6 separate regions of the Homo sapiens genome follow, and all the other regions are reported to be linked to region 1. Evidence: microRNA targets listed by miRTarBase, many of them from high-throughput screens and not tested one by one. Region 1 holds a microRNA gene; each other region holds the end of a gene's coding sequence.
The links. Region 1 holds the annotated microRNA hsa-miR-6840-3p (GCCCAGGACUUUGUGCGGGGUG, at 1,307-1,328, opposite strand). A microRNA usually pairs through its seed, bases 2 to 8, with sites in the 3' UTR of a target mRNA and lowers its output. Matches are read on the target gene's strand: a 7mer-m8 pairs with bases 2 to 8, a 7mer-A1 pairs with bases 2 to 7 and ends in A, and an 8mer does both.

Region 2: miRTarBase lists TSPAN11 as a target of hsa-miR-6840-3p. Seed matches in the 3' UTR shown: 7mer-m8 at 847-853, 8mer at 1,325-1,332, 7mer-A1 at 1,341-1,347, 7mer-m8 at 1,568-1,574, 7mer-m8 at 2,048-2,054, 8mer at 2,383-2,390 and 2 more.
Region 3: the mRNA of RPL34 is a reported target of hsa-miR-6840-3p. The part of its 3' UTR that is shown has no 7-base or 8-base seed match.
Region 4: miRTarBase lists SCAMP1 as a target of hsa-miR-6840-3p. The part of its 3' UTR that is shown has no 7-base or 8-base seed match.
Region 5: miRTarBase lists MRPS21 as a target of hsa-miR-6840-3p. The part of its 3' UTR that is shown has no 7-base or 8-base seed match.
Region 6: miRTarBase lists ARL14EP as a target of hsa-miR-6840-3p. The part of its 3' UTR that is shown has no 7-base or 8-base seed match.

Annotation. Positions count from the first base shown.
Region 1 is chr7:100,353,184-100,358,023 of GRCh38, reverse strand. It overlaps MIR6840 (microRNA 6840), which reads right to left and starts at 1,373; the gene lies at 1,303-1,373. It overlaps STAG3L5P-PVRIG2P-PILRB (STAG3L5P-PVRIG2P-PILRB readthrough), which reads right to left. Exons shown (of 17, transcript NR_036570.1): 10 at 4,754-4,814; 11 at 4,541-4,651; 12 at 2,784-2,881; 13 at 1,141-1,274. It also overlaps the pseudogene PVRIG2P.
Region 2 is chr12:30,991,294-30,996,133 of GRCh38, forward strand. TSPAN11 (tetraspanin 11) reads left to right here. Exons shown (of 8, transcript NM_001370302.1): 8 at 563-4,840. The coding sequence ends at 622. The region is part of intron 2 of TSPAN11-AS1 (TSPAN11 antisense RNA 1); the gene reads right to left. Among named protein-coding and RNA genes, the nearest start is that of TSPAN11-AS1, 12 kb to the right of the region's middle.
Region 3 is chr4:108,624,415-108,629,254 of GRCh38, reverse strand. RPL34 (ribosomal protein L34) reads right to left here. Exons shown (of 5, transcript NM_001319236.2): 5 at 3,885-4,127. The coding sequence ends at 4,043. Among named protein-coding and RNA genes, the nearest start is that of RPL34, 6.3 kb to the right of the region's middle.
Region 4 is chr5:78,474,728-78,479,567 of GRCh38, forward strand. It overlaps SCAMP1 (secretory carrier membrane protein 1), which reads left to right. Exons shown (of 9, transcript NM_004866.6): 9 at 777-4,840. The coding sequence ends at 941. Among named protein-coding and RNA genes, the nearest start is that of SCAMP1, 120 kb to the left of the region's middle.
Region 5 is chr1:150,307,345-150,312,184 of GRCh38, reverse strand. MRPS21 (mitochondrial ribosomal protein S21) reads right to left here. Exons shown (of 3, transcript NM_031901.6): 3 at 3,206-4,137. The coding sequence ends at 3,957. Among named protein-coding and RNA genes, the nearest start is that of PRPF3, 12 kb to the left of the region's middle.
Region 6 is chr11:30,335,789-30,340,628 of GRCh38, reverse strand. ARL14EP (ARF like GTPase 14 effector protein) reads right to left here. Exons shown (of 4, transcript NM_152316.3): 4 at 2,406-4,062. The coding sequence ends at 3,834. Among named protein-coding and RNA genes, the nearest start is that of ARL14EP, 15 kb to the right of the region's middle.

The sequences.
Region 1 (4,840 bases):
TTTTTTTTAGTAGAGATGGGGTTTTGCCATGTTGGCCAGGGTGGTCTCACACTCATAGGCTCAAGTAATCTGCCCGCCTCAGCCTCCAAAAGTGCTGGGATTACAGGCGTGAGCCACTGTGCCCGGCCTGACTTCAAATCCTGTGTTGAATAGAAGTAGTGAGAGCGGGCATCCTTCTCTTGTTCCTGATCTTGGAGGCAAAGATTTCAGTCTTTCATCTAAAATGACTGAAAGACTTTCAGCCATGGGCCTTGCATGACTGGCCTTTATTTTGTTGCAGTACATTCCTTCTCTTCCTGGTTTGTGGAGTGTTTTACCAGGAAAGGGTGTTCAGGCTGGGCACAGTGGCTCAAGTCACACAAAAGTGTCAAGTCAGCCCTGCCCAAGGGCCCCAGTGCCCATCTTCCTGCTGAGGGGCTGGGCCTCACCTTGGCTGGCTGGGCCCCTCCCACCTGGATCCCTGCAGACCCCACCGCACTCAGCCTCACTTCTCATCCCTTTCTCTGTCCAAGGCCAGCGCAGGCTCTTTCAGGGAGAGGAAAGGCGGGCCTGAGTCTGTGCTCTGCTGCACCCCAGATTCAGTCCTCAGAGAGGAGAAGGAGGAAGCCAGTGGAGGTCACAGGCGCTCAGCCCCCAGCCCAAGCACCAGAGCCCCCAGCTTGTCCTCTGTCCCTCTCCCTCCCTGGCAGGGGCTCCCATGCAGTCCCCAGGCACCACCACAGCCCAGCTGGCCTCTTCCCACCCCAGGCCTGCTCCCTTGGTGCAGGGACCACAGTCTTGCTCAAGGGGTGAGGGGGCTGACGGTCCCCTACACAGAGACTGGTCCCTCTCGAGGCCACCCCTTGACCCCCAGACATGAGACTGGATCTGCAGGGTCCCCTCTGACCTCCCTGCCCTACACAGGAGGGGACAGAGCTTGGAGAAGCCCTGTCCCAGGCCACATGACTTGCAGGGCAGTCCCAGGACTGGAGCCCCCTCTACCTGGATCTCTGGGCCTCAACTTCTGAGTTGCAGGAACTCAGGCATAGGGGAGCCCCAGGAGGTTGTTCCCTCATACAGCCCCTCAGGTCATTCCCTCCACACACCTGAGCCTATGGCTGAACCAGGAAGGTTCCTTGGTGCCAGGGCAGCTGGACTCACCCTGGGTGATGGTGAGGTGGGTCCCCTTGATGGACTGCCACGACAGCCTCCCTGATCTGTATGTCCAGCTGGACTTGGCAGAAGTACACAGACTGGTCCTCCTTCCGCAGGTTCGAGATCCTGAGGAAGCCTCCCTGAGGAAGTGAAGGCTCAGAGCAACAGTGGGCACCCCGCACAAAGTCCTGGGCCCGTCTCTAACAGGGGATCTGCAGGTCTTTGCCCGGGGGTGGTCACTGGAGCTTTGGTGACCCACAGGGCTCCCTCCATAGGAGGCTCTGCCCATCCTCTCCAGAGTAAGGTGGCATCAGCTGAGGGGCCGTGGGGACAGGAAGGCAGGATTTCACCAGAGGAAGTGATAACAATCTTCTTGAGACAGAAGCAGGCAGGGACAGGCCTCCCTTCTCTTGTCAGTCTCTTCCCTGGTCCCAGTAGGCTCCTCTGTGCTTCCCAGGGCCAGTCAGGCCGATCCACCCTCCTTCCCTTCACAGGTCTGAGGAAACAGGCTCCCCATGCTCAGGAAACCCCTCCGTCTGAGCCAGGCCCTATACACCTCATTCTCCTTGTTCAACCCACAGGGAAACTGAGGCACCGGGGCTTTGGACTGAACTGGTCCCACCTGCAAAGGTGGGCCGAAAAGAGGACAAGGGACCCCCTGGCTGTTTGGGCAAGGCCTCAAGAGGGTGGCCCACCCTGCCTGAGGACTTTTTGTTTTTTTTTTTTGAGATGGATTCTCGCTGTGTTGCCCAGGCTGGAGTGCAATGGTGTGATCTTGGCTCACGGTAACCTCTGCTTCCTGGGTTCAAGTAATTCTCCTGCCTCAGCCTTCCAAGTAGCTGGGAATTACAGGTGTGTGCCACCACACCCAGCTAATTTTTATATTTTTAGTAGAGACAGGGTTTCACCATGTTGGCCAGGCTGGTCTCAAACTCCTGGCCTCAAGTGATCTGCCCACCTCAGCCTCCCAAAGTGCTGGGATTATAGGCATGGGATACAACACCCAGCCACTGAGGACTGACTCTTCGTTCCATTCCTGCCTTGCCCGTGGCCCATGGGACCCAGCTAGAAGGTCACCTGCTTACCAGGCTGCCCAAGGAGGGGGCCACATAGAACTTTTAGCCAACAGCCTCTGGGTAGCTCTGGAGGGTACATACTCCCCAGGGGCCTCAGGCCCGGTACCGCCACGTGCATTCTCCTTAGATGCAAGGTGCGTGTTTATGTCACTTTCCGGGCTCTGGACCCAGCTGAACCCCCATGGGAGATTCCTTTTGTGTCAGGATTTCTGCTCTGGAATGGTGTGAGGCCTCCCGGATGGTTCATCCTCCCTCCCCCAACAGCAGTGACAGGGCCTGGGGCTAAGCCTGGGGCTGTGGCTCTCTCTCAGAGGGGGGTTTTGGGAGGCACCGGCCCTGGAGGAGGGCATGATTCCAACATGGGCAGAGTCTAAATCCAGCCCGTTAGCCCAGCAGGTGGCCATGGGAGAGGCATGGGATGCAGTGTTCAGCAGAGGCAGGGAGGGGGCCAGGACCCTGCCCATTTTGAGAACTGCTGCTTGTATGTCCCCACCTTCCCCCAACAACTATCCTCCTTTCCTCACCAGCCACGTCTATGCCTGCCCCAGCCCCTTGCCCCTCCTTGGCACCCACCTTGTTCTTGCTTTCCCCTTGAGATCAGGAATGAGGCACAGATGTCTGCTCTCACTGCCTCCCTTCACGGTACTGGAGTCCTAGCCAGCGCGCTATGCCTGAAGGGAAATACAAGTGCTCTGTGTCTTCTTCAATTCTGTATTGATCTATTTGGCCTCCACCCATCACAGGGCCCATATTATCTATATTTCCTGCATTCTTGGCCTCTTTTTAGTGGGGGACATGGTCTCGCTCTGCCTGTAGGTGGGACTATAGGCACGCACCACAGTTCTCCCCTAATTTTCTTTTTTGCAGAGACGTGGTGTCACTGTTACCCAGGCTGGCCTCAATCTCCCAGGCTCAAGGCATCCTCTCAGTGTGCTGGGATTACACATATGAGCCACAGGGCTGAGCCCCTTGTACATTGCCAATGCTCTGGCATCTGGTGCCTCACTGACTAGGGAGAGACTCCCCCTCCCAGGGGTAGCTGACTGTAAAATTTTTACATCAACTTATTAAATCAGCTGGTCAATTTTGACCCAGAGCCATGCTGAAATTTTGATTAAGAAGCTCCTATTCAGGCGGGGCACCGTGGCTCAAGTCTGTAATCTCAGCACTTTGGGAGGCCAAGGTGGGTGGATCACCTGAGGTCAGGAGTTCGAGACCAGCCCAGCCAAACATGGTGAAACCCGTCTCTACTGAAAAAAAAAAAAAAAATACAAAAATTAGCGGACACGATGGTGCACATCCGTAGTCCCAGCTACTCGGGAGGCTGACGCAGGAGAATCACTAGAACCCGGGAGGTGGAGGTTGAAGTAAGCCAAGATCGTGCCAATGCACTCCAGCCTGGGTGACAGAGCAAGGCTCTGAAATCCAGCCAGATTTCAGGCAAGTCCTCCTACTTTCCAGCCCTGCCTGATGCCAGCTGTGGAAGGAGGGCATCAGGACTCTAGCCCAGGCCACAGCAGGGAGCCCGGCAGAGGGACGCCAGGTCAAATCACAGGGACTTTTCTCAGGCTGAAGCCCCAGGAACCCTTGCTGCTGTCCTAGGACATGGTGGGATTGCAGCAGGGACCATCCCGCTGGGATCCCCCAATTCTGTCTAGGAAGCCACAGGTGTCCCTCAGGAAGCTCCCCCAACCCCCCGCCACCCCAAGAAGCCAGGACAGATCTCTAAGACTGGGACACTGCCCTCTCCCTGGGCCAAACCCAGCCCTGCAAGGAGGCCCCAACCCACTCTGGTTCTCACCTGGCTTCTGCCTCCCAGGGGTGGAGACTTCCTCCCCAATCTCTTCACCCCCAAAGAAGCACAGCCAAGGCCCATGTCAGAGGAACTGTGTTGCTGACTTAGTCACAGCAGGAAACGACTGGAATGGGGTACTGTTGCTCACACACTCACACCTGTGCCCACACACACCCACACATGCACACACACAGACCACATCTGCAGCAGGTGGGCCTGGCCAGGCACCTGTGGGACACTTATTAGAGGCCCAAGAATAACGTAAGGGGGTGGCACCCAGGAGGCCTGGGAAGGGGAAAGCCCAGTGGCCTCATGGTCTCTCTCATTGAACTCCTAAGGGTCCCTCCATGGCCCTGGGCCCCAAGGGTCAGGGAAAAGAGTGAGGCCAGGACCAGTGCAGGGAGGCCTCTGCCCAGCCTAAGCGTAGAGTCCATTCTCAACAGAGACAAAGCTGCCATGTGCAGGGATGGATGTGGAGGCCCAGGCAGCAGGGCCCTGGGGCCAGTGTGCGGTGTGGGTGGGGAGTGATGCCCACCAGGACGGCCCCCTGTCGGGGGTGAGCTGTGTCCAAAGTAGCTGGGCAGCAGCTGGTGTTGATAGTGGCATAAGGGACGTGGAGAGCAGCCTGGGAGGCCTGGCTGGGTGCCTGCGCGGGGGAAGGAGGATCAAGTGAGTCTGTACAGCTTGGGCCCAGCCCTGGCCCCCCCTACCCCTGCCACCTCATCCCCAAAGCAGCCCCCCTCCTCACCCATGCTCGTGCTCTCAGTGCCTAGGAGCTGGTGTGGGATGGCTGGAGCCTAGGGGCAGGGCTGGGAGAGAGCAAGGATGGTCAGAG
Region 2 (4,840 bases), not on the chromosome of region 1:
TTTCCCCCATGGCTCCTGTACACCAGCCAGAGCATCGAAGATGGACCTGAGTTTTGCTCTAGAGTCTAAGGACAGCAAAACACAGGCAGACTCTTTCCTAGAGAGACAGTCCACTTCAGACAGCTCTGATGAGGGAGTGGAAACATTACTCTTAGGGCCTAATTAAATCAGGCCATCTCTGGAGAAGATCTAGGACCACAGACCAGCAGCATCAACTGGGAGCTTGCTAGGAATGCAGACTCTCAGGCCGCCACTAGGCCTGAAGAATTGTAATAAGGAGGTCCCCAGATGATTCATGCCCATTAAAGTGTGCAAAGCCCTGCTCTTGGATAGTAGATGGCAGAATGTGGTTCCCCCAGGCACACCACCATCACCTGGGAGCTTGTCAGAAATGCAGAACCTCAGGTCCCACCCTGACATTTTGAGCAGTTTTGAGCAGGAATCTGCCCTTTGCCCAGGCCCCAGGGTATTCGAGTGAGCAGCACTGCTCCAGGGCCCTGAGGGCCGGCAGCTTCCAGGAGTTCTGATTTCTCTTTGCTCCTCTGCTCTCTCCACCTGGCAGATCTGCGGGATGGTTCTCACCTGCTGCTTGCACCAGAGGCTCCAGCGGCATTTTTACTAATGGCCAACCACCTCCTCTTCCAACTGCCCCTCAAGACAACATGTGGCCACATGCCATCTGCAAGGCCTGCAGAGTTAGCACCAGCTCCACTAGGGCCATAGATGCCCCCTCCTTTGTGCCTAGCTCCTGCGAATCCACCGAGTGCCTGAGACCATAGCTTCTGTGCCCACCCAGGCAGAGACCCTCGGCCCCCTCTCCTCCATTTCTGAGCCCCCATGGCCAGATCCTGGGCAGGGAAATGATCCTTTCAGGAGACAACCAGAGCCCCTCACCAGGAACGGGGGCACCCGTGGACTACGGGAGGGTGGCGGTTGGGTTCTCTGCTCCCTCCCAGCTCCTGAACCTGGAACAATCGGCAGAAAACCCAGGAACCCCGGCACTCCTGCATTCAGCACGGGATTCCCCCACCCATGCCCAGAAGCCCTGACCTTGCTGTTTCTGGAAAAAGCATGGGGTGGGGCAGGGAGGGCTGGCATTTCCCCCAGAAGACCTTGCCCTTTGACCTGCCCACTCTCCACACTGCCTCACCTGGAAAGCCATGTCCTGCTGGCCTCATTCCTTCCTGAAGGGCCTAGGAGTGGGGAGGCCTGGGTAGGGCAGCCACAGGCTGGGTAGAGCCGCCCTGGCAGGAAGCAGGGGGTAAGGTGGCCATACCAGCACATGCTGCACTAGGAGCAGAGCCCTGCACCTGCCTAGCTGCCTTCCTGGGAGAAACCTCCCTGGGAGACCATGGCCCCAAGCCCTGGCCTCTAGTGATACGCCCCTCGGGAATCTCCTGTTCCGGGGCCTGATTCTCAGGAACACCAGGTTTCAGACCATCTTCAGCACCTAATGTTGATGGGTGTCAAACATCTCCTGGAGTGGACCAACTCGCAACCCTGCAAAGTCGGAGCTGCTGAGAAGGGGCAGCTCTGAATAGAGGGGCATCTGCCTGAACCTCACTTTTCCTGGGGCCCTCTCCTTGACCCCGTAGCCACCACCACACTGCTTCCAGGGGGTCCAGCTCTGCTTCCCTTCCCACCTGTCCTAGAGTGGACAGAGCTTTTTCCTTGGGTTCTCTCTTGCATCACTAAGTTCAGCAGGGAATTTGCGGAATTTTCAGGAAGAACTTTCCCCAGTAATAAGGGAGAACAGAAAGAAAATCCTAGAAAATACAGAGTATCCATGCTGGCAGCTTTTTGTACAACACCCATAGGGACCCCCCCAAATGGCTATTACAAAGGGGCAGCCCATTCACTACACAAGAACCCCACACCTGGCTTCCACCCTCCCCAGCTCCTGCACTTCTCCCCAGAGCGGGACCCTCTTACTTCCCCCCATGAAGGGGGGCACCTTGTGCTAAGGCCAAGGCTGAGCGAGGTCCCAGCTCACCTCCCTGCTTGATCCAGATTGCACTGTGATGAGCACATTGCTGACCTAGGCCAGTCCTGGGGCAGGCGTGCTCTCTCTCCCATACATAGGAGTGGCCTCAAGGCCACCCAGTGCTGACCCCAACAGAGCCCTGAACTGTCCAGAAACTGCATCCTCAGCACAGGAAGTACCCACATGGACAGAGGGAAGCCCAGCCTCGGGGCCGGTTGCCTCCTCTTCTCTGGGTGTTCTCCAGTGGCTTCTTGGAGCCTAGGCTGGTTTATCTCCCCTGCCTAAAAGGCCCTGGGGTTGCCAATGCAAATTCATTAAAACGAAGACCAGATATCCCAGACTGCACAGAGGCCGAGAGAAATGGTATAGTGCGTGATTAGCATTGCTGCCCTCCAACCTCCTGGGATTCATGCAGATAATCAAAAACTGACTATGACTCCCAAGTTCTCTGAAGGATGAGATCACAACTGACAACTCTTACGACAGAGGGAGAGTGGTGAGAGAGAGAAAGAGGGTACTGGGCTAGAGCCATGTTCTTCCTGCCGAGGTGCCAGGGGGAGGCGGCAGTGGGCAGGGGGTGCTGGGGCCTTACCTGTCTGCCCTGGTGGGGATGAAAGACAGGTGACAGGCAGGTGCCCTGTGCACAGCCTTATCATTGAAGGCAGGCCCAGGACAGCCTGCCCCATCTGCCCCAGCCCCATGGGATGGTTGGTCCAGCCTGACTGGGGCAGGATTAGCTGCAATTCCTGCCCTGTGTGTCGTCCAGCCAGACTGCCTCTTGAAAGATGGCTTGTCCAAGCGGCAGACAGTGGTAGAACAACCCAGGGCTTGGAAATCTGACCTCCTTGTCCATGCCAACAGCCTGGGAGATGAGACAGGGTTAGAGGAAACAGAGGCCCAGGATACGGCAGGTTCTGCCTGGGAGTGTACAATGGTTGGAGTCCAGAGCCAACGATGTGGTCCCCAGCGGGGTGTGCCCCTCCTGCTGACGAGGGTACAGATCCATACCCAGGTCAATTCCTCCCGGGCCCCTGTTTGGAGGCTGCTACAGCCTTGAGTTCCTTGGAGAGAGAGGACACGCCTGTGGAATGTCACCTTCAGTCCCGTGCAGGCAAAAGGCCCCTGCACACCAGGGCCCTAGGAAAGCAGCATCAGGTGCTGGGATCCCACCCAGCTGGCACGGGCACGTTCTTGCCCTGCACACTCCATGCTGCCCTTCCCTGAGCTCGCAGGGGCAGACACCAAGAGAAGGGCGCGTCCCCGAGTCCCCTGGGTGACCTGTGTCAGGACAGCAGGCAAGAATGAAACGTGGCCTTGGCTGACGGGTTGGAATATTTGTGACCGTTCTTGTCTTTCTCCCTCCTGCTTCCCCGGCACCCTAGCCCCATCTCCAGGAGCCCCTCAGGCAGAGTAAGTGGGGAGTGTGTCCAGGGATTTTTTTGTGTTTACCAAGGTCCTGCTGTGCACTTAGAATCTGTCACCATAAATACTTATCTCGCAGTTACCCCAGCAAGAGGGTGTTATTTCCCCCATTTTATAAAAGGAAATTAAGGCTGGGCAAAGTTAAGACTTGCTTGTCAGTGGTCATGGCTGTTGTCTTGCCACCCCCAGCTGGGGAGAAGGAAGAAAACTGGGCCGGGAACCCCTCCCCTCAGTGTCCCCCAGTTCTCCATCTCCATAAGGAGCCATCAGGCTGTCATTAAGGAACAGAGTGTCACTCAGGGGGCACTGTCACAAAGCAGCACCCATGGCACATGGGCCGGGGGTGCAGAAGCCTGGCTTATTTCAGGCTGACAGCTGGACCCTCTGGGTGCAGGGGCTCAGGCAGTGGCCAAGAGCCCAAAGGGCTAAGGCCCGTGACGACCACCCAGCCCGTCACCCCAGGTACAAACACTGACCCCAAAGCAAGAGCAGGGACTGTCCCTCAGCCCTCAGGGCCTTCATGCAGGGTGCAGAATCTCATGTCCACATGGAGGTCACCCCTCAGGTCACACCCACTCCCAGAGCAACCCTGGGCAGGGAGGGGCACCCTGGGGTTGTGTTGACCACCTCCCCTTCAGGTGAGGCCCTTTTCTGCCTTCTTTCTAGCCCCCTGCATGGGGCACCTGCTATTGCTGGGGCTCTGGGGTGGACCCTGTGTGATTTCTGTCAGGGAGCTTGTGCTGTGCATGGCCAGAGGTGTTTACATCCAGAAGGGCCCAGCACGGCCCTGTGGGGTGTGGGGGGAATATGGTAGATCATTGTGATGTGCCTCGGGGCCCTCTTGCCTTGGAGCCAGCTTTGTTTCAGAATCTGCTACTTGGGCCCTCTTCAGGGTTTTGAGGCTGGAGAAGTGAGTTGGGACAGTCACTGTCATCACCACCCACCCTGTCACCCACCTGGAAAACATTCTTGATATACTGGCCATGCTGGGCCGGGCTCACATCCACTGAGGGTATAGTGACCAAGCGTCTAAACCAGTCGTTCTCAAACTTCGGTGAGTATCAGAATCACCTGGAAGGGCTTTTACAAACAGATTGCTGGCCCCACCCCCCAGAATTTCTCATCAGGAGTGGGCAAGACCAATCATTTGCATTTCTGACAAGTTCCCAGGAGCTGCAGCTGCTGGCCCTGGAACCACACTTTGAGAACCACTGCTTTAGACCAAACACCAAAGGAAGATGCAGCCACCCTCCTTTACATGTCACAACGCTCAGGGTCCATGAGTACCTCAGGCTGTCCAGCTGAGCTCCACCTGCAGCAGCCGAGATTCCCGACTCGCTCCACCATTGGGGGCTAGGAGTGAAGCGTGTCACCATGGTCAGCTCATGGCCAGCCAGGAAAGCCTCTCTGCTGTGCGTCTGTGCAGTTCTTGTT
Region 3 (4,840 bases), not on the chromosome of region 1:
GGGTTATGTGGGAGAAAAAAAGGAGTTAAAAGTTTATATATGCAGTGGGCTTCCAGTTTTGACTTAAAATGTCTATTTTATTCATGGAAAACAAGATGGGAGGAAAAACATTCAACTATTAAAAATGACTGAGTAGTGGCCCAGCGTGGTGGCTCAAGCCTGTCATCCCAACACTTTAGCAGGCCGAGGCGGGCGGACATTCTGAGGTCAGGAGTTCGAGACCAGCCTGGCCAACATGGCGAACCCGTCTCTACTAAAAATACAAAAATTAGCCAGATGTGGTGGCAGGCGCCTGTAATCCCAGCTACTCGGGAGGCTGAGGCAGAATGGCTTAAACCCAGGAGGTGGAGGTTGCAGTAAGCTGAGATCGCGTCACTGCACTCCAGCCTGGGTGATAGAGTGAGACTCTGTCTCCAAAATAATAATAATAATAGTAAGTAGTGAAATTGAGATTTTTTATCATTCTATTTTTCCAAACTTTCCAAATAGTCTACAAAGCTGTTTGTTAAGTAAAACCATTTAACATACCAAGAATTCTTGGAAAAGAATGTACACCTCAATTCTTTAACTTCCTTACATTTCTCAAAGGTCACCCATTTCATATTTTGCTGAAACTTGCTAGTTCCCACCAGCTAGAGCCTGTGTCCAGTCATGTTGTTCTACCTAACTTGGAGCAGCAAGGAGAGGGAGGAGCCTCCTTCCACCAGCAAGAACTCAGGTTGGGGTGGCAAATAGGCTTTCTCTTCCACAGCAATTTTTTCAGAAATTACATCTCAAACCTTTCAAAAACTAGACTGGCCTACAGAGCAGCCAATTAGTTTAAGTTTTAAGCCACATTATTGTCTGAGTATATTATTAAAAGTGCCAATTTTTAGATGGTTATATCAAATACAATAAAACACAGTCACAGAACTGCTTGGTGCAGTATATATAAGCCTGAATCATGAGAAAGTGATGTAAATCTGCCTTAGAATTCAAGCTTTTCAATTCTATCCCCGTTTTATATTTTCAATACTGTGATTAAACATTATACAAGATAATTAATTCTATTATCCTGGTTGCTTAACAATCTTTGGGATTGGCAGGTGTTTGGAGAAAGCTAATGTATCTCAATCGTTTGAGACTATGAATGTTGACAACAGGGATCCCAGCTATCATTGATTATGCTAGCATTTATTAGGGTGCCCGGTCATTACACTTATTCACTAACACAGCTGCAAAAATCCTACCAACAATACAAATGGCTCTGGGTTTTCTATAACCTGTGTCTGTTCTCTCATCAGTAAAATGGGAATAAAGCTGTTGGAGTTGCTGGGAGGACTAAAACAAATTTGGTGGAGTCAGGCACACAGCCAATCAAGTGTACTGTGGTTAAAATTAAATTTTTTTTTTTTTTTTGAGGAGTCTCACTGTCACTCAGGCTGGAGTGCAGTGGTGCAATCTCGGCTCAGTGCAACCTCTGCCTCACAGGTTCAAGCGATTCTTCTGCCTCATTCTCCTGATAGCTGGGATTACAGGTGCATGCCACCACTTCTGGCTAATTTTTGTTATTTTTAGTAGAGACGGGGTTTCACCATACTGGTCAGGCTGGTCTCGAACTCCTGACCTCCGGTGATCCACCTGCCTCAGCCTCCCAAAGTGCTGGGATTACAGGCGTGAGCCACCGCGCCTGGCGGTTAAATTCTTAAAAGGGAGTTCAACTGCCAGCTTTGCCACTTACTAGTTCTGTGACTCCTCTTCTGCAAAACACTAATTAAAAATTTTTTATACCAAGAACAAGTTAACTGGCAGTGGGGTACAGTAAAGGTGTTATGAAATCCCATTTTTTTTGCCTTTTACCTTAAGGGGTATTCTTATTTTTTAATTATTTTTTAGGCAGGGTCTTGCCAAGCTGCCCAGGGTGGTCTCCAACTCCTGTCCTCAAGTGATCCTCCTGCCTCAGCATCCCAAGTGTTGAGACTGGGACTATAGGGGTGAGCCACTGGGTCTGGCCTAAGAAAAGGTGTTTTTTTTTTGGAGACCGAGTCTCGCTCTGTCGCACAGGCGAGAGTACAGTGGCGCGATCTTGGCTTACTGCAACCTCTGCCTCCCGGGTTCAAGCAATCCTCTTGCCTCAGCCTCCCGAGTAACTGGGATTACAGACGCATACCACCACGCCCAGCTAGTTTTTTGTATTTTTAGTACAGACGGGGTTTCACCGTGCTAGACAGGATGGTCTCGATCTCCTGACCTCATGATCCGCCCGCCTTGGCCTCCCAAAGTACTGGGATTACAGGCATGAACCACGGCGTCCAGCCAGAAAAGCATGTTCTTATGTATAGCTAAGCGGTAACTCTCCTCTGCTTAAGTAGTTACATCATGCCAGTTAGTAGGTAAATTTTCCTCAACTGAGGAAAATAGTCAAAATTTACTGAACTCCCCAGGTACTTTCAGCTTCTGCATTCCATGATGGCTCAAGGTCTCTGCTCTCTACTCAGATTGGAATAAAGCTTGTTATGGCTTTAAGAGATGGTGTTGGCCGGGTGCAAGGGCTCACGCCTGTAATCTCAGCACTTTGGGAGGCCAAGGTGGGCGGATCACTTGAGATCAAGAGTTCAAGATGAACCTGGCCAATATGGCAAAACCCCATCTCTACTAAAAATACAAAAATTAGCCGGGTGTGGTGGTGGGCGCCTGTAATCCTCAGGAGGCTGAGGCAGAATTGCTTGAACCCAGGAGGTGGAGGTTGCAGTGAGCCGAAATCGAGCCAGTACGCTCCAGCCTGGGCAAGAGCAAGGCTCCATTTCAAAAAAAAAAAAAAAAAAAAAGGTTGTCAGCCAACAGGTTGGGCAGAAGAATGGCTCATGCCTGTAATCCTGGCACGCTGGGAGGCTGAGGCAGGCAGACTGCTTGAGCCCAGGAGTTTTGAGACCAGCCTAGGAACATGGTGAAACTGTTTCTCAAAAAACCAAAAATGAGCCAGGCATGGTGGTGCCTACCTGTAGTCCCAGCTACTTGGGAGGCTGAGGCAGAGAATCACTTGAGTCCAGGAGGTGGAGGTTGCAGCAAGCCAAGATTGCACTCCAGGCTGGGCAGCAGGAGTGAAACCTTGTCTGAGCTGGCAGAAACACTACATAGTTCCCAAGAAAAATGAGGTCTGTATTTTAACATTCTGGCCTGGATAATAAATCCAATGTAGATCAGAAACTATACCCTTGACCCAAGGTTTTATATATAGTAGCTCACTCATTTGTTAAATAAGGAGTTCTGAGCTCTCCAAGATACCATTTTTGAACTGAAGTGACCTAAAAGAACAGAGGGTTTAAAAACAATCTTAAAAAGGTTCCATTCCAAGGAACTAGAATACCAAGGTTTCTATCCTATGAAACTTGCTGACGTAAAGGAGATACCATAGTAAGGATCAAAGGGATATTAAAGTTTCAAATAGAAGGGCCATTCCTCCCAAACCACCCTGAAGTCTCAGCCCACAAAGAGAAGGACATTATGCTCCAATGCAGCGGTAGAGCTGTCACCAAAAAAATTCTGGCCATCAGTGACCACCAACTGTTTCTTCAGAAAAAGTAACCCACTGGCTGGGTGCTGCGGCTCGCACCTTAACACCAGCACTTTGGGAGGCCGAGGTGGGCAGATCACCTGAGGTCGGGAGTTTGAGACCAGCCTGACCAACATGGAGAAACCTCGTCTCTACTAAAATATACAAAATTAGCCAGGCATGGTGGCACATGCCTATAATCCCAGCTACTTGGGAGGCTGAGGCAGGAGAATCACTTGAACCTGGAAGGCAGAGGGTGCGGTGAGCCGAGATCCTGCCATTGTACTCCAGCCTAGGCAACAAGAGAGAAACTCCGTCTCAAAAAAACCAAACCAAACCAAAAACAAACAAACAACAAACAAAACAAGAAAAAGTAATCTGCTAAAAACTATAGGGTCCCCAAATACCATACAGAAACAAAATCTGTATACTAACACATTACAACAGAAAAAAAAAAAGTCATACATACAGCGTCTTTTCATTTTTATTACTCAAAAAAGTTTCATTTTTTTATTTAGCTTTCTGACTCTGTGCTTGTGCCTTCAACACTTTCACAACGATTTTCTGCTCCTCGATAAGGAAAGCACGCTTGATCCTAGAAAGGAAAATACCAAATTAATCATTTCTTTAAAATGAACTTCATTTTTTATTTAGCACAGAGAAGGCAAACATGGTAAAGAACCAAGCAAAGCAATCAGGGAACCCAGGAAACTACAGGATACACAAATACAGAGTAAAACTTAAAAGGTGAAATTCATTTAAAGCAGGATAATCCTTCAATTTCATGCCAGTAGTTATCTGTCCTCCTTCTGAGTCAAGATAAACTATGAAGTCATCCCCACAGGAGACCACTTATGAGAGCTCTAATTTATTGTTAGGATCCAGGAATAGTGGTATTTCTTGATTTGCAAAATGTCTTAGAATATTTTAACCATATTTTTGAAAATTCCCAGTAAAAAACAACACATAAGGGGCTATGTGTTAAGAACTAAAATTAAAAGGTAAAGGGATATTAGCAAGAGACACCTCACCAAGAGCAAGGATTTTAGAACCTGTTTACGGCCAACTCCACCACACACTAGCTGCACACTGGACAAGTTACCTTCTCTATATTAAGGCACAAAATAGTTTCACACGTATTTAACAGGGAGTTTATGAGGATTAAATTTGGAAAGATTTTCTAGACTTTGAGCCTCCATCTAGGAGTGCATTTTATGGATCACTATCATTACAGTGTTGCACAGGACCTAGCAAAAAGCAGGTCTTCCTAGCATTTGTTAAATCAGAGTTACCACCAGAGTTTAAAGC
Region 4 (4,840 bases), not on the chromosome of region 1:
GGGCATATAATTAATAAATGTTTGTTATTTCCTTCTTCAAATTTGTGTTAAAATAAGTGGCTGATGTTATGTATTGATGGACTCATAGTTTAATTATGCAGGTTTTAAGACATATACTGATAGAAAATTTTTGAACCCTACTCCTGAAAATAAATTCCAAGATTTGAGTGATTAATCAGTATGGAGAAACAATTCCCAGAAGTGTTTCTTTGTGCATTCTTTAGGACTTGACCATACACAAAAAGTTAAATTGTATACAGAGTGCATAGCGGCAATATGTTGAAGGACATAAGTAGTGCTTGGTACATTAAATGATAAAATGATCTCATTTGATTATAACAGGGCCTGTGGTGTATATGTAGATAAAATGGAAATAGATAAGGTACTGTTCTCTCTGAATAGTCTGGGGTAATAAATTAATGTATTGTTTCTTGTTATTATGTTTAAACCATTTCATTGTAATGCTGTAATAATTTCACTTGACTAATTGGGTGCAGAGGAAAATACAACTTTTTGAAGTTGGCTAAGAAGTTCTTTATTTTTGGTTTAAATTAGCATAATTATCTCTTCTGCTTGGAGAAGAAAAGGAAAACCTATATTAAGAAAATGTTTAAATACAATTATTGTGTGTCAGTTTGGTGGCTAATATTCTTGATCTTAGGAATCATGACTACAATCTAGTATTTTTATGTTTGATTAATGTTGAGATTAAGAGCTGCTGGAAATGAATGCGTAGGTTGCTACTTACCTTCTCCCACTTTTTTGTGCCTCTGTAGGTACATGGACTATATCGCACAACAGGTGCTAGTTTTGAGAAGGCCCAACAGGAGTTTGCAACAGGTGTGATGTCCAACAAAACTGTCCAGACCGCAGCTGCAAATGCAGCTTCAACTGCAGCATCTAGTGCAGCTCAGAATGCTTTCAAGGGTAACCAGATTTAAGAATCTTCAAACAATACACTGTTACCTTTTGACTGTACCTTTTTCTCCAGTTACTGTATTCTACAAATATTTTTATGTTCAAAACACACAGTACAGACAGCATGGATATTTCCTGTTCACTTGTGCATGGGCTAAAACCAGGAAAACTTCCTTGTCTTATTACTTTACCTAATAGTTTCTTAATATTTCAGTGCCCCTTGCAGAAAAAATATTACATGCTAAATAAATATTCTCCATATTTTTGGGGGATGACATTCAGTGAATTATTTCAGTGGTGACCCACTGAAAATTAATAATGGTACTTATGATTAAAAACGCATTTAATACTAACTGCAGTAGTTCTTTCAAGAATCTTTAGAGATAAGGATTGCACATTGGAAAAGTAAACCATGTTTCATTCCTTTTTCCCTATTTATATTGAAAGAAATAGGCCAGCAGAGACTTAGGGATTTTAAATTGGCTTGCTTTTTAGCTGTTTCAGTCACCAGTGAAGAGCCTATGTGCATTTTGTAGTAGATAATGTAAAATTTGTCATCTTTTTCTTTTCTTTTTTTTAGAATAGCTGATATTTTGATAACAATCTCTAATTTGCATGGGCACCACATTTCTTATATTAAAAGAATTAGTGTTTTGGCTTCTGTACTGCTTATGGTTGTAGGATTCAGGGGTTAATGGAATCACAGAAATGATATTCTGCAAGAATTTCTTTTAAATAAAAAGTTTGGGGGTGCAATATAAGAAGTTTATATAATATGCAGTACATTATCCAAAAGAGAAGGTAGTTAATGCAGTAGAAAGTAGTGGTAATAATTCCTTTTTAAAAAAATTTCGGTAGTCATATAGTAACATTTTGCTATATGAAAACTTTGGTATATTCTGTGGTTACAACTAAGATTGTGTCTGGCAGCTCTTTTTTGGGGATGTGTGTGTGTGATTTTTAACAGAGGTATTAAAGGCTAGCCTAACTGTTGTCTAAAAAGATTGTACAGTATTTAAGGGATTTTCCTTTTAGCTTTTCATCTCCAGTGGCATTAAACATAAAAAGACCCTGGCATTTTTTCACATACTTGAATCCCTAAATGCACCTGTCTTTCACTTTTTGAGACAGACTGAATATATCTAAAATTTCCAGCAATAAAAAAAAAAGCATTTAACTTGCACCAAGCAAGAAAATATAAATACAGTTAACTGCATTAAGATAATCACGTTAAAATTGTTACTATGCAGCACAGAACTTCATTCTTATAGTATTCTTGGGTTCAACCTTTGAATCAATTTTACCACTGATTAAATAAATGACTCAAAGACATCTGTAAGTCATGCTGCTGTGTTTTGAAAGTCTTTAACTAAATTAAGATTGCAGAATGATAGTGATTATTCAATTAGATTTTAAGTAAGGATTGTGATATTAGAGGCTGGAAATCCTTATTTTTTAAAAAATCAGATAGGCATAAATAGTTAAATCACTTTCATTCTCCCCAAACCTGTAGTTACAGAAAAAGTTTTATGCTAGAGGTGGGATGCCAAGTTTTCACTATCCATGAAGCAGCGCTGCATGTCACTAGGTAACACAGATCCATCCAGATGGTGTTTACATTTGATTTATTTGGGATCTTATTGACATCAGGTATACTTGGAAGACATTTCTTTTATTCTTCAGCGTATGAATTTAAAGCTATTTTTTGTAAATATTTCTAATCAGCGATAATTTCTACCTATGTTCTCAACCAACTTAGCCAGTTTGTTTTTCAGAGCCTGTAGTCTTATTGGAAATCTATTTTATCAGTGTGCTTTATTGAGTGTGGATTTTGCATACATTCAAAACATTAACCACAAAATACAGCAAGTGCACCTATATTCACCATTAACTTATATCCCAAGTCCATTTTTTCCTGTACACTACAAACAAAAGATATATTAGAGACTTTTGAAAAATGCTGAAATACTTTGCTTCAGAATTGGAATGTTTATATTATGTAGAAATCTTCAAAGGTAGCATTATTAAATAGCAAAGAATAATTAGAACCCACATATCTTTTTTTGTGTGGATGGGGAAAATGTTTTAAAATCCAGTTATTTAATATGAGTTTGAGAGAGAAAATTGTTTTTTAAAAATATATGTGCATTGAAATGATGGCAATGCTTATAGTATGATCAAGTATGAAAGGAACTTTAAATTCTTATATTTACTTTTCTCTCAGTAAATTGTTAAATTTTCACTCAGCAAAAGATTGGCATTTGTTAAGTGTTCTATATTTAGTACTAAAATCACAGTCATGAAATCATAGTCATAAAATGGTCTTCACACAGCAGTCATCCGTGTCATTTATCATTTTGTAATATTAAATTATGGCAATTTTATTTCAAACTAAAGTTTGAACACCGGAAAGTCATTACTCAGTGATTTGTAATTTGGGACTTGGATTATTTATCTAGAGATGTTTGTATATTTTGTCAGTAACTAATACTGCGCTGCCATCATGGTGACTGTCATGGTTCTACAGAAATGCCCTCCATGTGTCCCTCTAATGTTGCATGTTTCAGTGGGTTGGAAGTTTTGTATATTTATTGTATTAACACAGAGTGTCATAAAATAAAATGCTGTTTACTGGATGTTTGTTTGTATAATTTTGAACACTATAATAGCAATTCAGAGACAGACATTGTTAAAGGTTTGATGTATATAGAAATTCCATGTTTGATTTTTTAAAATATGTGTATAAGTCTGTCATGTGCTAAACAAAATAATATGAAAGACCTAGTTAAAAATTCTAACCAATGTAAAATGACCATTTTTCTGTTGCATTAGACCTTTACAGGTAATGGAACATGAGCTTCACCCATATTAAATATTTTGGCCCCTTTAAGGTCAAAATACAGATCATCTAGAAGTTAGATTCAAAATGGAAAACCTATTCATGGCTCAGATTTTTCATTGTGGGTTAAAAATGGGTGTCTCTGTACTAGTATTGTATTTATTCAATTGAACTTGTATTCTGATTTCTATCCTTGCTACCTATTGCTGTTTTATGTACTGATGAAAGTACCTATTTGTGTATATTGGATTTTTCACTTGGTTAGCTAAAGAAGATGTAAAAATATCTAAAATAATGTTCATGGTGAATCTTATTTTGAGAAATACATGTTAAAAAAGGAACAGTATTCTTTATTTTCTGGGTGTTATATTTAAAAAAGCAAGTTTGGATTTTTACACCTAATTTACTAGGAAAATATTTTATTCTGTAATTCATGTTAAGATTATGTATGGTTTGCATTTTAAGGGGATTTATGTTAGGTTAATTAGTTGTTTCTGTAAATCATTTGTAATAGCATAGTGCTTTTTACTCATTGCTGTATCTTTTTCTGAAAACACTGTTGTTAACATCTAATTCAGTATCCTTATTGGTACAAATCTGTGTTTGGCATGACTGTTTATATACAGAATTTGTTACATTTTGAGCATTTTTTCCCCTGCTTATGTATACCTTAGAGTTACCATGGCTGTCATATACCATTTCACTATATCTCCTTTCAGTTTTTCCTTAAGGAAAATGTTTAGAGGAATTTGTTCATTTCATGTGATTAAGCCCTTTAGAGATGAAATAAGATTGGTTAATTTTAAAAAAATTGAGGATGGTTAAAAAATAGAAAACACCTTACTTTGATACATTTTAAAGTACAATAGTATACATTTATTTAGAGTAGACTAATGTGTTTAAAACATGAGTTGTTTTAAATACTTTTTTATTGAGCTAAAAAGTTTTATCTCACATATTAAGTATTACAGAAAGTGAAGTATTTTGGCTAGAATTTTAGGGCATATTTTATAAAGCAGCATGCCTGTAATATTGGTGGGTATTTTTAAACTTTAGGACTTTATCACAGTATGTAGAGAGCTA
Region 5 (4,840 bases), not on the chromosome of region 1:
GGTAAGAGATTTCATAGGTGCCCAAGTTTAGGGTAGGAGGTACTTACCTATCATTCTGTAACTGGGTAAACAGCAAACCACCCCTCCTCTGAAATCAATGCAGGGATTAAAAGATTAGTGCAACCCCTACTCATTAAACTACCATGCAAATTATCTTCTAGCTTCCCAGAGCAAGGAGTGGAAAGTTTTTCTCCCTATCATCACAGCATAAGCAGATTGGAACTTTATCCAGCCACTTATCGCATTTATGAGGCCTCTCAACTGGCTAGCTGCTAAAACCCATCATTGTTCATTGCTCTAGGGGAGCATGGGCAATAGGACTGAAGATTAAAACAAGCGGGGGATAATTTTTAGAGACAAAGAAAATTTCAAATCTCAGCCACCTCTTAGTATTTTGGAGGGAGCTCAGAAGCAACTTTAGCCCCAGGAGAATAATGCCAAGTAACAGGCCTGATTCTGTTATCACAAACATGCCTTACCACTGTGGTAGATGACACTATATTATGGCTCAATATCATTAAAATGTACTAAAGACCAAATTCAGATTTATTTTATTTTATTTATTTATTTTTGAGACGGAGTCTCGCTCTGTCACCCAGGCTGGAGTGCAGTGGCGCCATCTCGGCTCACTGCAAGGTCTGCCTCCGGGGTTCACGCCATTCTCCTGCCTCAGCCTCCCGGGCGCGGTGGCTCACGCCTGTAATCCCAGCACTTTGGGAGGCCGAGGCGGGTGGATCACGAGGTCAGGAGATCAAGACCATACTGGCTAACACGGTGAAACCCCGTCTCTACTAAAATTAAAAAAAAAAATTAGCCACGCGCGGTGGCGGGCGCCTGTAGTCCTGGCTACTCGGGAGGTTGAGGCAGGAGTATGGCGTGAACCCGGAAGGCGGAGCTTGCAGTGAGCCGAGATCACGCCGCTGCACTCCAGCCTGGGCAATAGAGCGAGACTCCGTCTACAAAAAACAAAAAAAAAGGTAGTGACGGAGTTTCATCGTGTTAGCCAGGATGGTCTTGCTCTCCTGACCTCGTGATCCATCCTCCTCGGCCTTCCAAAGTGCTGGGACTACAGGCGTGAGCCACCGCGCCCGGCCTCAGATTCAGATTTAAAGGTGACTCAGAAGTGTCATATCTTGTTTGTTAAGACTAGGTTGTATAAAGGGAACAAAGTTGAAGGCAGCCTGTATACAGATTTTCTCCAAAATGAGGGAAAGGAGCAGATCTATTTCTTTTTCCTTTTTTTTTTTTGGGGACGCTCCGTTGCCCAAGCTGGAGTGCAGTGGCGCGATTTCGGCTCATTGCAAGCTCTGCCTCCCGGGTTCACGCCATTCTCCTGCCTCAGACTCCCAAATAGCTGGGACTACAGGCGCCCGCCACCATGCCCCGCTAACTTTTTTGTATTTTCAGTAGAGACGGGGTTTCACCATGTTAGCCAGGATGGTCTCGATCGCCTGACCTTGTGATCCGCCCACCTCGGCTTCCCAAAGTGCTGGGATTACAGGCGTGAGCCACTGTGCCTGGCCAGCACCAACTTTTAAAAGAGACCGAGTCTTGCTCTGTCGCCAGGCGCGATCTTGGCTCACTGCAACCTCCACCTCCTGCGTTCAAGTGATTCTCCTGCCTCAGCCTCCCAGGTAGCTGAGATTACAGGCGCCTACCACCACGCCCAGCTAATTTTTTTGTATTTTTAGTAGAGACAGGGTTTCACCATGTTGGCTAGGCTGGTCTCAAACTCCTGACCTCGTGATCCGCCCGCCTCAGCCTCCCAAAGTGCTGAAATTACAGGCGTGAGCCATGGCACCCGGCCTGGCACCGACTCTTAATAATAGCAACACGGCTGTCAGCCAACCAATGGTGGAGGAAACAGCAGGAGAAAAAGCAGAGCAGCTGGTCTTCCCACAGTGGTCAGTTTCCGCAGCTGTCAAGAGTAAAATAATCAGGAGTGACTGCTGGGTAGAGGCAGTGATGGTGGGAACCTCCACTTGAAGTCTCTTTGAGTACTGCAAAGGGCAGTGGTTGTAACTCTAGCAGGCATCAGAATCACCTGCAAGGCTTGTGAAAATAGATTGCTGGGCTCCAACCTCAATTTCCAATATCGAAGATCTAAAGTAGGGTCCCATAATTTGCATTTCAAGCAATCCCTCTGGTGAAATTGATGCTGCTGATCTGACACTTTGAGAAGCACTGCTTTGTGGGTATTTCTGGCTCTGTGCCATTCTCTCTCAACGCTCCATTCCCTCTTTCCTACTATCTACTGAGTCCCACCCATCTATTGCTTTATTTCTTCTCCACCATCCCTCTCTTAGTCTCTGTTAGGAAAACTAAAAGGACAGAAAACAGGAATGAACATTAGGGTAGATTTAAGAATTTCTTTGGGCAAGGATTCCAGCACTCTAGTCTGGTTGATAGGTGTTTTCAGAAGCAGAATTTATTCCAAATACATACATGCATCTTCTCCTCTCTACCTAACATGGAACAGTTTAATAAAAAGTAATAGATGCTTTCTCAGTAAGATTTTGCTTGGGGATTCAAAAAAATTGGGTAGGAAATGGTAGACATATTTCACTACATTAAAAAAATTTTCCGGCCGGGCGCAGTGGCTCACGCCTGTAATCCCAACACTTTGGGAGGCCAAGGCAGGGGGATCACGAGACCAGGAGATCGAGACTATCCTGGCTAACACAGATAAACCCCATCTCTACTAAAAACACAAAAATTAGCCGGGCGTGGCGGCGTGTGCCTGTAGTCCCAGCTGCTGGGGAGGCTGAGGCAGGAGAATGGCGTGAACCCAGGCGGCGGAGCTTGCAGTGAGCTGAGATTGTCCCACTGCCCTCCAGCCTGGGCAACAGAGCGAGACTCCATCTACAAAAAAAAAAAAAAAATTTACCAGCCAGGTATGGTGGCTCATGCCCATAATCCCAGCACTTTGGGAGGCCGAGGTGGGCGGATCACCTGAGGTCAGGAGTTCGAGACCAGCCTGGACAACATGGTGAAACCCCGTCTCTACTAAAAATACAAAAATTAGCTGGGCGTGGTGGCAGGTGCCTGTAGTCCCAGCTTCTGGGGAGGCTGAGGCAGGAGAATCACTTGAACCCAGGAGGCGGAGGTTGCAGTGAGCCTAGACTGCACCATTGCACTCCAGTCTGGGGGACAAGAGCGAGACTTCCTCTTAAAAAAAAGAAAAAAAAATTCCTTACTTCTCCTGGACTTTCAAAAAAGTTTTTATTGTAGTAAAACACAAAATTTACCATCGTGACCATTTAAGGGTATAGTTCAGTGGCATTAAGTACATTCAACTTTTTGAGCAACCGCCATCACCATTCATCATCCATCTCCGTTTTTTTGTTTTGAGATGGAGTCTCACTCTGTCGCCCAGGTTGGAGTGCAGTGGCATGATCTTGGCTCACTGCAACCTCTTCCTCCCCAGTTCAAGCAATTCTCCTGCCTCAGCCACCCAAGTATCTGGGATTACAGGCGTGCACCACCACGCCCGGCCAATTTTTTTTTGTATTTTTAGTAGAGATGGGGTTTCACCACATTGGCCAAGCTGGTCTCAAACTCCTGGCCTCAAGTGAGCCGCCCGCCTCAGCCTCCCAAAGTGTTGGGATAACAGGCGTGAGCCACCATGCCAGGCCATCGTCTCCTGAACTTTTTCATCTGCCCAAACTGAAACTCTGTACCCATTAAACAATAACTCCTCACTGCCCCCTCCTCCAGTCCCTGGCAAATACCATTCTACTCCTAGAGTACTTTCAGACTCAGTTTCTTCTTTCACTTAATAAAAGACAGGGTCCACTGCTGACTAATGGGATTGTTTCTATATTTGGAGGCCTTCTTGCAGACATGTGATTTGAGTTTATTGCAGAGAATGGTAATAGGAAATGGGATTGTACAAAGAAAAGAGATGGAGAGAAAACTGGATGAGGGTTTCGCACTGGGTGTCCCACCCACAGGCCTCAGCAGCCCTGCCACGGATCTGCCCGATTCTTTCGCATCAAGAAGTTGATCTTGCGAGCCATTTCCATGTTGTAGATCCGCCGGCACCTTTCATAGCTTTCCCTCTGTCGCCGGCAGCATGGCTTCTCATAATACCGCCGATGCTTAATGTCCTCAATGAGCCCATCCATAGTGAGGATTCTGTATAAAGGCAAGCAATGAGGTTAGACATTTGGGATCATCATTATTCTTTTCCAGTTTCATAAATAGAAGTCGATTGACCAAACAATTGGTATTTATAAAAAATACAGTGGGAAATGGTGGCAATAGAGCATTAACTGCCTACTTACAAAGGCCTCAATAAGAATCTGTGGGCCGGGTGCAGTGGCTCATGCCTGTAATCCCACCACCCTGGGAGCCCAAGGTGAGCAGATTGAGCCCAGGAGTTTGAGACCAGCCTAGGCAACATGGCAAAACCCTGTTTCTACAAAAAATAAAAATAATTAGCCAGGCTTCGTAATATGTGTCTGTAGTGCTAGCGACTCACGAGGCTGAGGTGGGAGCATCACTTGAGCCCAGGGGAGACTGAGGCTGCAGTGTGCTGTGTTTGCACCAGTGTACTCCAGCCTGGGTGACAGAATAAGACCCTGTCTCAAAAAAGAAAAAAAATATTGTTCAGCATGGGCAACACGGCAAAACCCCGTCTCTGCAAATAATACAAACATTAACCAGGCATGGTGGTACATGCCTGTAGTCCCCTCTACTCAGGAGGCTGAGGTGGGAGGATCAATTGAACCTGGGAGTTCATGGCTGCAGTGAGCTGAGATCCTACCACTGCATTCCAGCCTGGACAACAGAGTGACACCTTGACTCAAAGGAAAAAAAAAAAAAAAAAAAAAAGGAC
Region 6 (4,840 bases), not on the chromosome of region 1:
GATGTCAGCAAAACTAAGGCAGTGTCCTGAATTTTGCACAAGAATGTTAAGCTATAAGCAGGGCAAACATCATGGAGGTAGAAAACCTCTACCAAAATCCAGTCCAGATAAGACATCAGTTTTCTACATTGTGACTCAATGTGTAATCACCTTTTGGAGGTGGAAGGGGTATATGAGGCCAGTGGGATCTGATTTTTCAGGGCAGTCATAGCTCAAGGACTGAGCTGTTCTGGTTTTGTTTTTCTTGAAAACAGCCACCCACAACACTATTTAACAAACCAACCGACACTTTAGCCATACTCAACTGAAAAAGTAAAATGGTTTACAGAATATTTCATACTACCCAGGTACTGCAATACATGTTCAGGAATTCTGAACATCGATATTTGTGAGTACATGAATGCAGATATTTTTCTGGGAAGTTAGTTCATAGCTTTCATCACCTTCTCACAGGGGTCTTTTACTTCCAAAAAGTTAAGACTATAATAGAACTCACTAAAATTATGTTTTTAATAATGAATCACTGTATATATATATATGGATATTTCAAAATTCACTTGCTAAAAATTACTTGCTTGAAATCACGCCAGGGAGGCAGTTTTAGAGTAGACTGTCAGGTTGTATAACAGCCTGTTATATAGAACTAAACATAATACTTTAAAAAGAGAAGAATCCTATATATGATGTTACAAGGTAAATAGCTATTTCCATATTTTAAAAAAAAGGAAAAGATCACGAGATGACATTTTATTCAAATATATACATGCATTTCTACCTTAATATTTGTGACCAACATTGTGTGAGACCAACATTTGTGACCTAACTTCTCTACTAGGATCTACACACAACAGAAATTGTTTATAAAACTTTGCTTTTTAGATTAATTCTAAAATAATTTATAGTCACCTGGAATATTTATGCACAATATAAAGAGGCTCTAGATGATTTCATTATATTCCATATTTCTGTAATTTTATATTACAAAATAGTAAGTGGGCTCATTATTTAATTTTTCCAAAACATAGCTTTATTACAGCTTACTGTAAATCAGATACACCTTTCTCTGTAAACATTTTGTATGCTCATTAAAAGTTTGCTTCCCTAAATGGGCATGATGAACAAATATTAGCAAAATTGCTCAAGAATATTTTCCTTTGAAAAACGTATTAGTCTTTGAAAAATTACAGGTCTGTTCTAAAAAATGCTGCAATATGGCAATTTTAAAGTCATTCATTCCATCAAAAATATTCCTATTTTAAGTAAAAAACCTGATTTTAATTTGTCCCTACGAAAAGCCTAAGCACTGTCATACTTAGAAAAACTAAAAGATGGTAGAAACAATTAAGATCTAATGATCCTAATGTTCAGATAAAACTGGAGTGTTTATGTCCTCAATAATGAAGTATTTCCTTACTTTAGAGAAAGTAATCTAGCATCTGACTTAAGTGAATAAAGCTGAAATATTCTTTTGCCAGTGTTCAGGTAAATCATACAGATCAAGGAACTGACAAGCTAACTGTATGTACTTCTGGTAACAGGTGAGTGAACAGTTAAAATTATTAAAAATATGTAATTCCAAGGCTGAATATGCCATTCCCTCAAAGTAAAACCAGTCATTTTAAAAGCAAAAAAATTAAAAAACAAACAAACCCTCTAATGGTCAATTCAAACTGGCTGCATAAATTGAGTTTTAATGGCTACAAAATCTTTCAAATTGCTAAGAGCACATTTGATTTAACTGAAGGACTGTATTTAGGATGCAAAAAACCCCCCAAAACCCAGATTAGTGGCAATGTCCCATGTGACAAAAAGCTTTTAGACAAAATGACAGCTGTCTTTAAAAAAGTGCAAAGACCAAGGAGGGCAGATCATGAGGTCAGGAGATCAAGACCATCCTGGCTAATATGGTGAAACCCCGTCTCTACTAAAAATACAAAAAAATAAGCTGGGCGTGGTGGCACGCGCCTGCAGTCCCCGCTACTCAGGAGGCTGAAGCAGGAGAATCACTTGAACCCAGGAGATGGAGATTGCAGCGAGCCGAGATTGAGCCACTGCACTCTAGCCTGGGCAACAGAGTAAGACTGTCTCAAAAAAAAATAAAATAAAAGCAAAGAGACGATACCATTCCCCCATCCTCCAAATAGCATCCAAGCAAATTCCAACATCAAGATGCAATCAATTTCCAAAAAATTTATTTATACTCTGTATTAACCAGTGTTTCTCTTTTCCATCCTCACTCCCTAAGGAGTCTTTTTACAATCCTAATCAACCACCCCCAAAATTTTAATACCACAGATATGGTATCTGTTTAAGTACTGTGTGTATATTCATGCTTTATACATCAAGTTTTTGTCCCCCAGAACAATCTTGACAAGGACTGCGTGGCGCTAACAATGAAAAGTTTATAGTATTAAAACTTTTTTATTTGAATAAGTGGGGAGAAGAGAAATATATTTCAGCACTTAGATATATAAATTATTTCCAAAACAGTTTAATACTCAACTAGTCGGTTCTATCAAAATCAGTTTTCCCTGAAGTAAGCACTGTTCCCAGCTACAAGCGATCCTCATTTCACATGGTACTGTGGGACCATAAAAATGGTCCTGCAATCTTAATAATCAATAGGGAAAATGATGATTGTTCCATGACCTTTAAGGTTCTGCTCAAATATTAAAAACTCTTAAGACCAGTTATAAATGTAGAAAAAAATGCAAAAATGTTTAAAAATATTTAGTACACTGTAATTTAAAACATTAGAAATAGAATTAAAGTGTTTTATTTCATTGTAAAAACAAAGTAGTTTGAATAGGGCTTGCCTTTTTTTCTGGCAAGTAACTTACCATACTGAGTAAGCATCTTTTATGTTCACGGCAAACTGCCATACTCCTTCTAAGTTTGGGTCAGCTTCCACCCTTTTATTGCTTGTGCTTTCAATGTTGTGAAATATTTCTATATTCACATTAAATATCTTTTAATGTAAAGTTTTTTTTTTTTAACCATCACTTCCTCTGGGACGTATCTGTCTTTATTGCAACCACTTTGCTTATTTGTGTTGGTAAGTTTGCCTTCACTAAGCTCCTATGAATACACAGCAGCAAGAACAACATTCCCATGGTCAGTGACTTCTTCTACAAATTCATTTATGTTTGATTAAAATTTCACTTCCAGTGTTATCATTTTTCATTGCTTTGCTGCACTTTCATCTTTGTTGACCAGTTCTTTCGAGTGTTCACTTCTATAGAATGTCAAGTAGATGACAGAGAGACAGCATAACTACATGCTCTGCTGTACGTGAACTGAATTAACAGATGCACAGGGACAAACCACTGGAAGAATTTGAAAGAAATAACATGACTGGTCACAATCATGAAGCATATCTGTTATTTACATAGCGATTTGTAGACTGAAGAGCTAGCAGAGAGGTTTGTACTTCATGTAATTACTCAGTTACAATGTGCTAACTAAAATTTTAACCTAGATTTTAACAACAACAGTTTCCTTACCAGTTTTCTTTCCTTCCTGGTAAGGAAACTGGTATTTAAACTAAATCTAGGTCACTGAAATTTGTGCCCATGGGAAACATGCAAATAGAGGACTGCCTACACCCTACTTGTTTATATTGATCCAGACAGGCTTAACGCTGACTACTGAAAAATAGCCTATCTGAATTTATATCAAATAGTGAATCTTAAAGCACCCAAGATGAAAAATTAGGGCACACTGAGATGGTTTTAAAATCTTTGTCATATGATAATCAAGCTTAAAATGTATCTTAGAGTAACAGATTTTTAGAAATAAAGACCTTTAAAGGCTCCATAGTTTGGTACCGCAGATTATCCAGCATGTTTATTATGAATTATTTCTCCTCCTTCAATTTCAATTTGCTCATACAGCCACTTGCGGTCACAGCGGCATTCAGCTCCACACTTGGTAGAACCACAGGCAGGACAAGCATAGAAACATCCTAAGCAGTCTTCATCCAGGCAGTCACAGAGGTCCATCCCACTAAAAATCAGGAGACCCTGGCTATCATAGACCTTACTCTTTGCTGGTATCACTTGTCTGTAAAATAAAACACAATGAATTATACCTCATAAATATGTTATTTTTGATTTAATTGAAAATACAGTAAAAAAAAAAAAGGAGATAAAATATTTTTAGATGAGGTCATGCCAAAATCATCTATAATTTATCAGGCTCAAGGCTTATTCTATCGTCAGCAGTAAATGAACTCCATGTGAGAAGAGGAGACCTAACTCTATAGAGTGTTGAGACAAATCTAAAAATTCTGAATACGCTTCTTGAAGTGCATAATTTTCCCTTTACTTTAAACAAACAAAAAAGAATGACAGGTTAATAGTGGTTCACTTTATTAGCTACCAACCTCTTCACTGTTTTATCAACACAGTTTTATTTTTATTATAGTATACCACCTCTATAGATTTTTATACTACAATTAATGTTTCTTGTTCTTTAATGGACTCTAGTAAATTTGGCCTAAAAATATTTAAATGACTCAATGGTAAATTTTAACAGATGGAATACATGGCATATATAGAAATGTTGACTGAACTTAGAAAAAAAATTCTGAATGATTATATTAACATTTGTTTTAGAGTCATATTCTAAACAATTTAGTTCTCCCATTCATTATGTTGACTATACAGAACTGCATTTCTATTTCAGACATGTAAAAAATAAAAACCTTGCATTCTCATAAAATGTAATTACCTTTTAGCTGCTACCCATAGAACGGAGATATATGAATTACAGGCACATTTCGGAGGTATTGTGGGTTTGGTTCCAGACCACCCCCAATAAAGTGAGTCACACACACACA